Linked DNA regions of Homo sapiens: region 1 is linked to region 2. A link means that fine-mapping ties the variant in region 2 to the expression of a gene that starts in the linked region. Tissue or cell type: whole blood. Region 2 holds a variant in brackets; the other region holds the start of a gene. All regions are shown on one strand. Distances are from middle to middle.

Region 1 (5,385 bases), 24 kb before region 2:
TTGGCTCCTTCACAGGGACCAGGCAAGTTTCTGAACCTTAGTTGTCTCATCTGTTAATTGGGCATAATAACACCATCCTTACCCACTTCATAGGGCTGCTCTGAGGCTTGAAAGAGATCACTTATGCGATAGTGCTTTGTACACAGGAAAGCGCAATATTTTCAGAGGCGTTATGAGCAGAGCCCCTCCCAGGGGAGAGTCACACATGTCTCATAGCAGCCTCCTGGAAACGCTGTCTTGACATAGAGATAGAAGCCTGCTGGTTGGAATCTGTGGGCCATGGCAGACATCCTGGGACAGATGGGCCTGTTGGAATCTGTCAGATCACATCGCAGAGGCAGCTGCCTTCTCTGCCCACGCTGCTGGCCCAGCCATGCCCATGTAGCTGAAGTTCCCCTTTTCTGTCCAACACAGCAGCCTCTGCTGCAGTCTGGCAGCCCTATCTGGAAGGTAACCAACTCCTTGGTTTCTCCCTTTGTTCTTCCTGCTGTCCTCCATGTCTTTGGTGCTTTGTGAGTACTCTGCATTCCTCTACTCTAGAAACCAAGCTCCCAGGGTCTGCCCAGGGCTTGCCCTCACACCAAGTCCTGAGGGGCAACTCTCCGCCTAGCTAACCTTGTGCCTTGTCAGAATGCCAAGCAATGCCAAGCAACAGCACCTTGTTCTGTGGTGGAAACTTGAGTGGAATAACAACAGCCACACTTGGTATTAATGTCACACTGCTCACCAGGATGCCCAGAAGCACTGCATTGAATCATTCACAGGCCTCTGCTCTCCCCCAGTGTATGCCAGCTGGATTGGAAATGGGGAGACACCACAAAGGAAGTCAACATCAGAACTGGGGAGACCCTGATGTCCTGAGTTTCGCTCCAAAAATTCAAAGGCAAAAACTTTCCGCTCTGCTGCTGACATGCTGTGTGGAGTAGCAAATTAGTCCTTTCGTTTTCCACACATCACCTTTATCATGTATAAAGTGGGAACATAAAGAGCCCAATCTCCCTCCTGAAATGAGGGGGGAAAGGGCAATCCCTAGGGGTAGAGGGGGGAATCCTCGACCTCAAGCATTATACCAAGATTCTGCCCTTAGCTAACAGGCCCCGTGGTTCAGCCTTCAAGTGCTTGAAGGTGACACACCTATCAGTGCACCTTGAAGAAGGCAGAAACTCCCATCAGATGGAGGGGAAATCTGGACACCCTGGGACAAAAAAAAAAAAAAAACTCGAATGGGGTAAAAAAGCAAGAAGGGTGATATGCAAAAGTGGAGACCAACCATTTGGGTTCTCAGCCTGAGGATGTCTTTGTCCCCTCCCTCCCGCAAAGGAAATGCGGATGTAGAGGTAAGTCTGTCATCCCTTAGCCAAGCTTTTGGGTTCAGAAGCTGACTGCATAGCAACAGCGGACAGCCGCCTTCCCTCCCCTCACACACGCACACACACGCGTCTCCAACCCTCTAGGAAAGCGGTTTCAGGACTTGTGAAGTCCAGGGAAGGGGAAACCCCAGCCTGGGGCCCTGAAGCAACCCTGGCGCTAATGCCAACAAGTGTCGCGGACAGCTTGGGGGCTCAGGTGGGGCGAGGGGAAGATTGACACGCAAGGGGGAGATGAGCCCTCACTAAGCCCCTACCTCCTCCCTCCAGACCTGACCTGGGGAATCACCCCATCCCACCCCCAACTCCCGCCTCCCACTCCTGCCCAGCCCACCCCTAGGGCATTTGGTCCCGCGGCAATCGGGCACTGCCTGCGGGTGGGGCGCTCGCCCCTACCTCGGTGGCCATGATCCGGGGGCGCTCGGAGGCTGTCGCGGGGCCGGGCGAGGGGGGTCTCCGCGGTGCTGACCCCGGGAGCAGGTGGGCGGCGGCGGTGGCGGCGAGCTGGGGCCCGGGGCGCTGTCCGCAGTGCTGATGCGGGCGCCGCGGGCCCGGGCTCAGGTGGGCCGGGGGCGGGCGGGCGGCTGGGTCCAGGCAAGGGGCGCGGCGCTGTCCGCTGTGCTGAGGCAGGCGCCGGGCCCGGGAGGCGAGGCCGCGCCCGAGGCTCCTCACGGCCCGATCGCCCGCTGCCGCGGCTCCTGCAGGCAACGGCCGGGTTTAGCTTTGGCGGCGGCGGCGGCGGGGATGGGGGCGGCCGGGGGAGGAGGGGCCAGGAGCCGCCGCTGGCCGGGAGGGGGAAGCCGCGGCCCCCAGACTCCGGCGCCGCCGGAGAGGAGCCCCGCCCGGGCCACAGGCTCGGCTACCGCCCCGCGCGAGGCCCCGCCTCCCCTTCCTGCCCTCCCCCTCGTGAGAGCCCCGGAGCTCTGCGCTCGCTTCCGTGGCCCCCGGGACATCCAGCCTGAAGGACAGTGGGGCAGGAATTTTTCCGGGGCAAGACGCTTCAGCCTGCAAGGCTGACCGCTCCCGAGCCGCTCGCAGGCCCGCAGGTGAGGCCTCTCTACCTTTCCAGCCACCCCCAGTGCCCCGGCTCTACCCCTCCCTCGCCCCGCCCCCAGCTTCCTCTTTAGAATAATTTCTTTTCTTTCTCTCCCTTTTCCTCTCTGTGTGCCCCCCCCCCATATACACACAGTCAGGCTTGCACGGACGGCCCCTCTTTTCCCCTCTCCTTTGCACTTCCTGGAACCCCACTAGCTAGACAAAGATCCTGCCGACCGCAGAGAATCATTTCCTTTCTTTAAATACGTGCCCACATTTCGTTCTCAGCCATAGCCTGGGGTCCCTTCTTTCAGGCAGCTCCAGAATTGAAGCCAGTCTCTCCTTGCTGCTCTTCCTGGACCTGGTCCCCACCCTTTACTCTTCCCTCTCTCCTCTGCAACCCGAGTTTACATACACGCACCACCACTACCACCACCACTCAAAAACCACAAGCAGATGGTGCCAAACCGGTATGCTCACTCTCCAAGGATGGCAGGTCTGGCTCTGGTGCCACCTTCGCACTTTTGACATCATAAATTCCAACTAAATGATCTATTTGTTTAATAAAAAGGAGACCAGGTGCAGTGGCTCACACCTGTAATCCCAACACTTTGGGAGGCTGAGGTGGGAGGATTGCTTGAGCCCAGGAGTTCAAGACCAGCCTGGGCAAGACCCTGTCTGCACAAAAAATGAAAACATTAGCCGGGCGTTGTGATGTGTGCCTGTGGTCCCAGCTACTCAGAAGGCTAAGGCAGGAGAATCACTTGAATCCAAGAGTTCAAGGCTGCAGCTAGCCATGATTGTGCCACTGTACTCCAGCCTGGGCAATAGAGCAAGAGCCTGTCTCTTAAAAAAATAAAAATAAGGCCGGAAGCAGTGGCTCATACCTGTAATCCCAGCACTTTGGGAGGCCGAGACGGGTGGATCACCTGAGGGCAGAAGTTCAAGACCAGCCTGGCCAACATGCTGAAACCCCATCTCCACCAAAAATACAAAAAAAAATTAGCCAGGCATGGTGGCACCCGCCTGTAGTCCCAGGTACTCAGGAGGCTGAAGCAGGAGAATTGCTTGAACCCGGGAGGCAAAGGTTACAGTGAACTGAGATCACACCATTGCACTCCAGCCTGGGCGACAAGAGCGAAACTCTGTCTCAAAAAATAAATAAATAAATAAATAAATAAAATAGACATAAAAAAAAGGAAACACCAACACAAGTGCCTTTTTACATACCCATAATACCCCTTGGTCTCTTTGAGGGGTGGTGGGGTGTGCTCCTCTGCAGCTCACTGCTGCCTGAGAGTCTGAAGCCCACACACAGGGAGAACCTGGCGGCCAAGAGACCTGGCCCAGGCTTTTCCAGCTGTATAACCTCGAGCAACTGTCTTGTTTTCTGAGCTTATGGTTCTCTTTCTGTAAAATGTGAGTGTTGGATTTCACTAGACTGTTTCTAGGACCTTTTGTTTTTTCTCCAACCTTTTATTTTGACATTTTTAAACATACCAAAATGTTGAAAGAATAGTACAATAAACTATGCCATCTACCTAGCTCCAACAATTGCTTTTTGCCACATTTGCTTTATTGATAGATATGAAAACAGAGCTATATTTGCCTAGATTATCAGAAGGTGACAGATATCGTGGCCGGGCGCGGTGGCTCACGCCTGTAATCCCAGTACTTTGGGAGGCCGAGGTGGGCGGATCATGAGGTCAGGAGATTGAGACCATCCTGGCTAATACGGTGAAACCCCGTCTCCACTAAAAAATACAGAAAAATTAGCCGGGCGTGGTGGTGGGCACCTGGGGAGCTACTCCCCAGCTACTGGGGAGGCTGAGGCAGGAGAATGGCATGAACCCAGGAGGCAGAGCTTGCAGTGAGCCGAGATTGCGCCACTGCACTCCAGCCTGGGTGACAGAGCGAGACTCCGTCTCAAAAATAATAATAATAATAATAATAATAAGGTGACAGACATCGTGAGGTTTTATCTGTAAGTACTTCAATGAGATTTTATCTGTAAGTACTTCAATTCACCATGCATCTCCCAAGAAGAAAAGCGTTATCCCAACTAGGCACAACACCATTCTCATGCTTTATTTTATTTTATTTTATTGAGATAGGGTCTTGCTCTATCACCCAGGCTGGAATGCAGTGGCACCATCTCAGCTCACTACAACCTCTGCCTCCTGGGTTCAAGTGATTTTCAGCCTCCCAAGTAGCTGGGATTACAGGCACGCACCACCATACCCAGCTAATTTTTGTATTTTAAGTAGAGACAGGGTTTCACCATGTTGGCCAGGCTGGTCTCAAACTCCTGAGCTCAGGTGATCCGCCCACCTCAGTCTCCCAAAATGCCAGGATTACAGGCATGAGCCACCGCACCCAGCCAATTATCATGCTTTTAAAATGCCCATATTATCTAATATTCTAGAACAGTTTGTCACCCCTAAAACACATTAATAGCGATGACCCCTCAAAAATTTTCCCAGAACTTTTCATTTTTAGTAGCTAACATTTAGTGAGCACTTACCATGTGCCAGCCCATATGCTACACACTTTACATGTATGATCTTACGTAATCCTCACAATTACTCTTTGAGTTGTGTTCTTGTGATCTTTTTATTATTCCCACTTTATAAATGAGGGAACTGAGTAAGTTGCCCAAGGTCATAGGGTTTGTGGGGAATGGAGACAGGATTCAGACATGGGCAGTCAAGCTCCAGAGCCTGTGTGGTTGATCCTCCTAACTGTATTGCCTCCCTCCAGCATCTGGTAGACCATAGACTAGCAGAGCAATGACCACATCTCCAGCTGCCTATTTTGCAGATGAAAACGCTGAGTCCCAGAGTGTAAGTGACATGCTAAAGAAGTTAAAGGCGGGTGTCTCATTCTACCTTATAGTTTGGCATAGGATTTGGCATAAAGGACCAAACAGAATATCTATGAATCCTGCAGTGGTCACTGGTAATAAAAGAACACATAATCTGAT
Region 2 (5,385 bases):
CTATCCTCCAGAGATCATATAAAAAATAATAACATATTGCTGAGCACCAATTCTGAGCTAGACGCTGGAGATACCGTGGGGCAAAAGACAGGCAAAGGGCCCTGCTCTCATTATGTTCTAACGGGAGTAACAAGCAATGCAACACAAATACATAATAAACTAGAAGGTGATCAACACTTAGAAGGGATATAGAAGAGGGAGGAAAGATGGGGAGGGGGGGCAGGGTGCTGGCAAGGGCCAGGGGGCAGTTTGCAATTTTAGGCAGCACAACCAAAGACCTCACTAAAGAGGTGACGTGGCTGGGCATGGTAGCTCACGCCTGTAATCCCAACATTTCTGGGGGACAAGGCAGGAGGATTGCTTGAGCCCAGGAGTTTGAAACCAGCCTAGGCAACATGGTGAGACTCTATGTCTACAAAAAATTTTAAAAGACTAGCTGGGCATGGTGGCGCATACCTGTGGTCCCAGCTACTCAAGAAGCCAACCCAGGAGGATTGCTTGAACCCAGGAGGTTGAGGCTACAGTGAGCCATTATTGCACCATTGCACTCCAGCCTGGGTGACAGAACAGGACCTTGTCTGAAAAAAAAAAAAGTGACATGTGATTGAAGACCTGAAGGAGGCTAGATAGGGCAAGCCATACGGACACCTGGGGAGGAGCATTCCAGGTGCAGGAGCAGCAAGTGCAAAGGCCCTGAGGCAGGAGTACTCTGGCAAGTTCCAGGCATGGTGAAGAGGCCAGCAGCTAGAGCAGAGTGACAGGAAGGGAGCAGCATGGGAACACAGGGAGTATGCTAAGGGGCAAATCAAGTCAGGCAGGGCCTGAAGACTGTCACAAGGATTGTGGCTTTTCCCTTGCATGAAAGGGGAGTCCCTGGAGGCTTGTAAGCAAAGGAAGGATATTATCTGCCATATGTCTTAACAGAACTACTCTTGCTACTGTGTTGAGAACAGATGAAAGAAAACTGGGAAACCCAGTTATTATTATCACCATCACCATCACCATCACCATCACCATCACCAACTATAGCAGCAACAGCCAGTTACTGCCCCTGCACCAGGCTCACTGCCACCCACTTCACTGTTACTGTCTAGTTTACATCTCACAACAACCTGTACAGACAGACGGCCTTATTTCTCCCATTTTATAGCTGAGGAAACTGAGGCTTGGCCAAAGTCAGAAGGTCACACAGATACACGCCCTCCATAATCCAGCCCACGCTCTGGCTCCTCTGCCCAGCCTCGTCTCCCACACCTCCCTTCTCACCTGCACCCAGCCTCCCACCCCAGGGAGCTACTCCCAGTTTCCCCAACTCCACGCATCCTTCCAGGCCTCTGATTTTTTTCATATGCTGTTCCAGCTGCCTAGAACTCTTTTCTCCCATACCTAACTGGCATGTGAATTTCAACCCATCTTTTGAGAGACAACTCAAACTTTGCCCCTTTGGGGGACCCCTCCCTGATTGCCTCCAGCACAGCAGCTCATGGCCACCTCCCCAGAAATATGAGGCATTGCAACTACTGCGCAGCTGGCCTCCCACATACCATGTGAGCGCATGGCCGGGGGCTGGAGCTCATCAACCTCAGTTTCCCCAGCAATCAGTTTTGCAACCTGACAGGTCTCAGGCTCAAATCCTGCTGACACTCTGTTGGCCTAGGTGATTTTAAATTTCTCTGTTGCAATTTAATTCTGAGTCACACTTCCTTCATGCATGTCCATTTCTGTGCACGTACCCCTGACCTTGGACAGATACACGCAGAGCCTTGAGCTGATGGGTGCCATTGAGCTTCAGAAGAACGATGCTTGTAACAGAGGAGGAGGTGCACGATGCAGAGGGAGCCCTGTGCATTTTAGAATCAGCCAGACCTGAGTTCACATCCCGTTCTGCCTCTCACTGGCTGTGTGGCCATGAGCAAATCATTTAACATGGGCCTTCCTATCTTTGTCTATAAATGAGGCAAGTGATATCCACTCCCATGAGTTTTGTGAAATCTGGAAATTGTACAAATGCAATGCCTGGCCCTGAATGTGCCCTCAAGATGTGGCATTAATGTCTCCTTGCCTGTCCCGTCCCTAACCCCAGGAGTATCCTATACATTACACTTGTCCACCGTGCTCTTGGGAGGCCTCATGGGCCTCAAGGGCTAGTGTACTAAGCCAGAATCCCCCACTTCTGGCCCCAGTCCTCTCTCTGAGGCAGGGCCTATAGTTTCCTGGCAGTTTCCCCTGCCCTGGGACCTGGAACCCTGCCCCTGGCCGGCCCCACTGCCTGGAAGGTCCACGTGCTCACTCCTTCCCGCCCACCAACTGCCCTGCCTCCATTGCTACCAGGCCTTCCTGCCTGATTAGCCAGGACAGCCACACTTCCAGCAGACAGTGGGAAACAAGTAACTAAGGAGGGGAGATGCCACAGCAAGGAACAGGTCAGAACAACATTTGATGCCAGTCACTAGGCAAACACCCCAGATCCTGGTCACTCAAGGTATTGTAACATGCCAGGTCAG[G/A]GAGGATTTGAAGGTGCAACGCCCTCACTTTACAAATGAGAGGCCCAGAGGGGGTAAGACACTAGCTCAAAGTCACACAGCGAGACAGGAGGAGGCTTTGGACTTGCCCCTGGCCGCACTCTTCCTACTGCACCAGGCTCCCCCTCATCAGGGGCCACGTTTGTTTTTTGTTTTTTGTTTCTTTTTTCTCCAGATGGACTCTGGCTCTGTCACGCAGGCTGGAATGCAGTGGCACAATCTCGGCTCACTGCAACCTCCGCCTCTTGGGTTCAAGCAATTCTCGTTCCTCAGCCACCCATGTAGCTGGGATTACGAGTGTGCACCACCACACCTGCTAATTTTTGTATTTTTAGTAGAGATGGGGTTTTGCCATGTTGGCCAGGCTGGTCTTGAACTCCTGGCCTCAAGCAATCCTCCAGCCTCGGCCTCCCAAAGTGTTGGGATTACAGGCGTGAGCCACCGCACCCAGCCAGAGACTACTGTTGAACTGGACTGACCGCAGGAGCAAAGCAGCTTGTTGAAGGCCCTGTAGCTCTGTTTCCCTTGAAAGATATCAAAACCCTTTCAGCATCTTAATCCCCAAAGGCATGACACCTGACATCAGTCTCTTGAGTGGCCTGCAGGGAAGCCATTGTCCAAGCTGTGTGCAGCCACCAAATCCACTGACTAAGCTCTGAATCCGCAGTCTCCTGAGGTTGCCGTTTGTTCTCTGTCTATGGACTGCTACTACATGTGCAGCTGCACTGTGCTTGAAACCTCAACAGCGTATCTCAGGGGTGGGTAAGGGAGGCTGGGATAAATGGAGCCCCAGCCTCTGAAGGCCTGACGTGGAGGTTGTGCAGCTCATCCCTGGGGAGTCCTATCTAGTGGGGGCTCGGGGGGCGACTCGGGGATCTGTACCATAAGCAAACTCCTCCAGGGATTCTGATGTGCTGCCATGTTGGGGACCACCAGCCTAATCCAGCCCTTCCCTCATGGAGTCCCCTCCTCCACACCCTCACAGAAGACCACTCATCGGGGGACTGGGAGCTCATCACCTCACAGGTGGCAGTGCCCCAGCAGTGAGTACACAGGCTGTGCCACGCTGAAATCTGCGTCCAGAATCCTCGTCTGCCCTCTGTGGCTGACCAGTCAAATGTCTCTTCTTCCTCAGGAACAAAATCAGACCCTATTGCAGCCCTGTGTCCAACCGCTGGCCGCCCAGATACTGTTCCTGCCCGGGGGGCTCCTGGTGTCCCCTTAGGCCTGACAAGGGAGAGACTCTCCGTGTCCAGCACGCAGGCTCCATTTGCGGGTAACTGCTCCTCCTCCTGCCCCACCCACACACGCCCATCTGTGCCAGACACCGCCGAGCACCAGGACACAGTGTCCTCCCCAGCCTGAGACCAGAGCAGGCCTGATCAGGAACACGCAGGACCCTGCCTTCTCTGCCCAGTGGCCTCTTGCTCCTGGTGCCATCGTGTCTACTTGAGATATTTCCAAATAGAGAATATAGAAACAATGAGCATTCCTCCCAAGAAACCGGGCTTGAAATCAGAACACCTGGGTCCTCCCAGGGCCCCCATCACTTCCAGCTATGGGACCTTGAGCGAGTCCCAGGGCCCATCTGGTGAATGGGGCTGCTGAGGGAAATTCAGACAAGCATCAGAGCCCACCGTGCCCTTCCCTCTCGGTGTCAGGTGTTTTCTGCCTTTGCCTGAGCCGTGGCCACACTCCCTTGCTAATCCTTCAGACGACTGACACGTATACAGCTGTTGCCCTGGCCTGAGACCCTGATGTGGCCTGACCGGCATGGGCCCCTACCCAATGCACTAACTAGCAGCAAATGAGCCTTATTAAAAAATATTTGAGGCCGGGCATGGTGGCTCATGCCTGTAATCCCAGCACTTTGGGAGGCCGAGGTGGGTACATCACTTGAGGTCAGGAATTCGAGACCTGCATGGCCAACGTGGCAAAGCCCTATTTTTACTAAAACAAAAAAAAAATACAAAAATTAGCCAGACGTGGTGGCGTGCGACTGTAATGCCAGCTACTTGAGAGGCTGAGGCAGGAGAATCACTTGAACCCGGGAGGCAGAGGTGGCAGTGAGCTGAGATCGTGCCACTGCACTCCAGCCTGGGCAACAGAGCAAGACTCTGTCTCAAGAAAAAAAGAAAAGAAAAAAGGCCAGGTGCAGTGGCTCTCACCTATTTATAATCCCAGCACTTTGGGAGGCTGAGGAGGGAGAATTTCTTGAAGCCAGGAGTTTGAGACCAGCCTAGGCAACACAGGGAGACCACATCTCTACAAAAACTTTTAAAATTAGACGGCTGTAATGGTGTGCGCCTGTAGTCCCAGCTACTCAGGGGGCTGGGATGAAAGGATTGCTTGAGCCTGGGAGGTTGAGGCTGCAGTGAGCCAAGATCGCACCACTGCACTGCAGCCTTGGCAACAGAGCAAGACTATCTCTAAATAAAAAAAATTTTTTTTTAATAATTGCATAGAGCTGCCTAGCACAGTGCAGGGACATGAGGGTTCAGTAAATATTTGTGGTATCTAATTTAGGAACACCAACCTGTACCCACCAAGGAGAATAAAAAATATACCTTAGTACTCACCTAGTTCAACCTTTTCATTTTACCAATGAGGGTTCCCAGAGAAGGGAAGTGACTCATCCCAGGTTTCCCAGCAACTTTAGTCCATAGTGGCTCAGTTTGCCCAGCCAGAAATCCCCAATGCTCCCATCGAAGGTTGTGGCGCTGACAACATCACAGCTGAGAGGAGGACTCCATGGTGCCCAGAACCCCCGCAGCGCCATTCACCAGAGGTGGACAACACTCCCTCCCGGCATCCCCCTGGGCCTGGCTTCTGACCAGAACCCTGCCCTGGACATCTCAAAAGC

What was found. PIP is the estimated chance that this variant, and not a neighbour inherited with it, causes the effect.
Region 1: GOLGA7B starts here. The variant in region 2 is fine-mapped to the expression of GOLGA7B in whole blood (TOPMed, PIP 0.99).

What each region holds. Positions count from the first base shown.
Region 1 is chr10:97,846,694-97,852,078 of GRCh38, reverse strand. GOLGA7B (golgin A7 family member B) reads right to left here and starts at 2,236. Exons shown (of 5, transcript NM_001010917.3): 1 at 1,764-2,236. The coding sequence starts at 1,775. GOLGA7B-DT (GOLGA7B divergent transcript) reads left to right here and starts at 2,281. Exons shown (of 3, transcript NR_108035.1): 1 at 2,281-2,413.
Region 2 is chr10:97,822,405-97,827,789 of GRCh38, reverse strand. It overlaps LOC107984260 (a long non-coding RNA gene), which reads right to left. Exons shown (of 3, transcript XR_001747563.2): 1 at 5,102-5,385. Among named protein-coding and RNA genes, the nearest start is that of GOLGA7B-DT, 25 kb to the left of the region's middle. The variant G/A (reference allele first, on the strand shown) is at 2,505.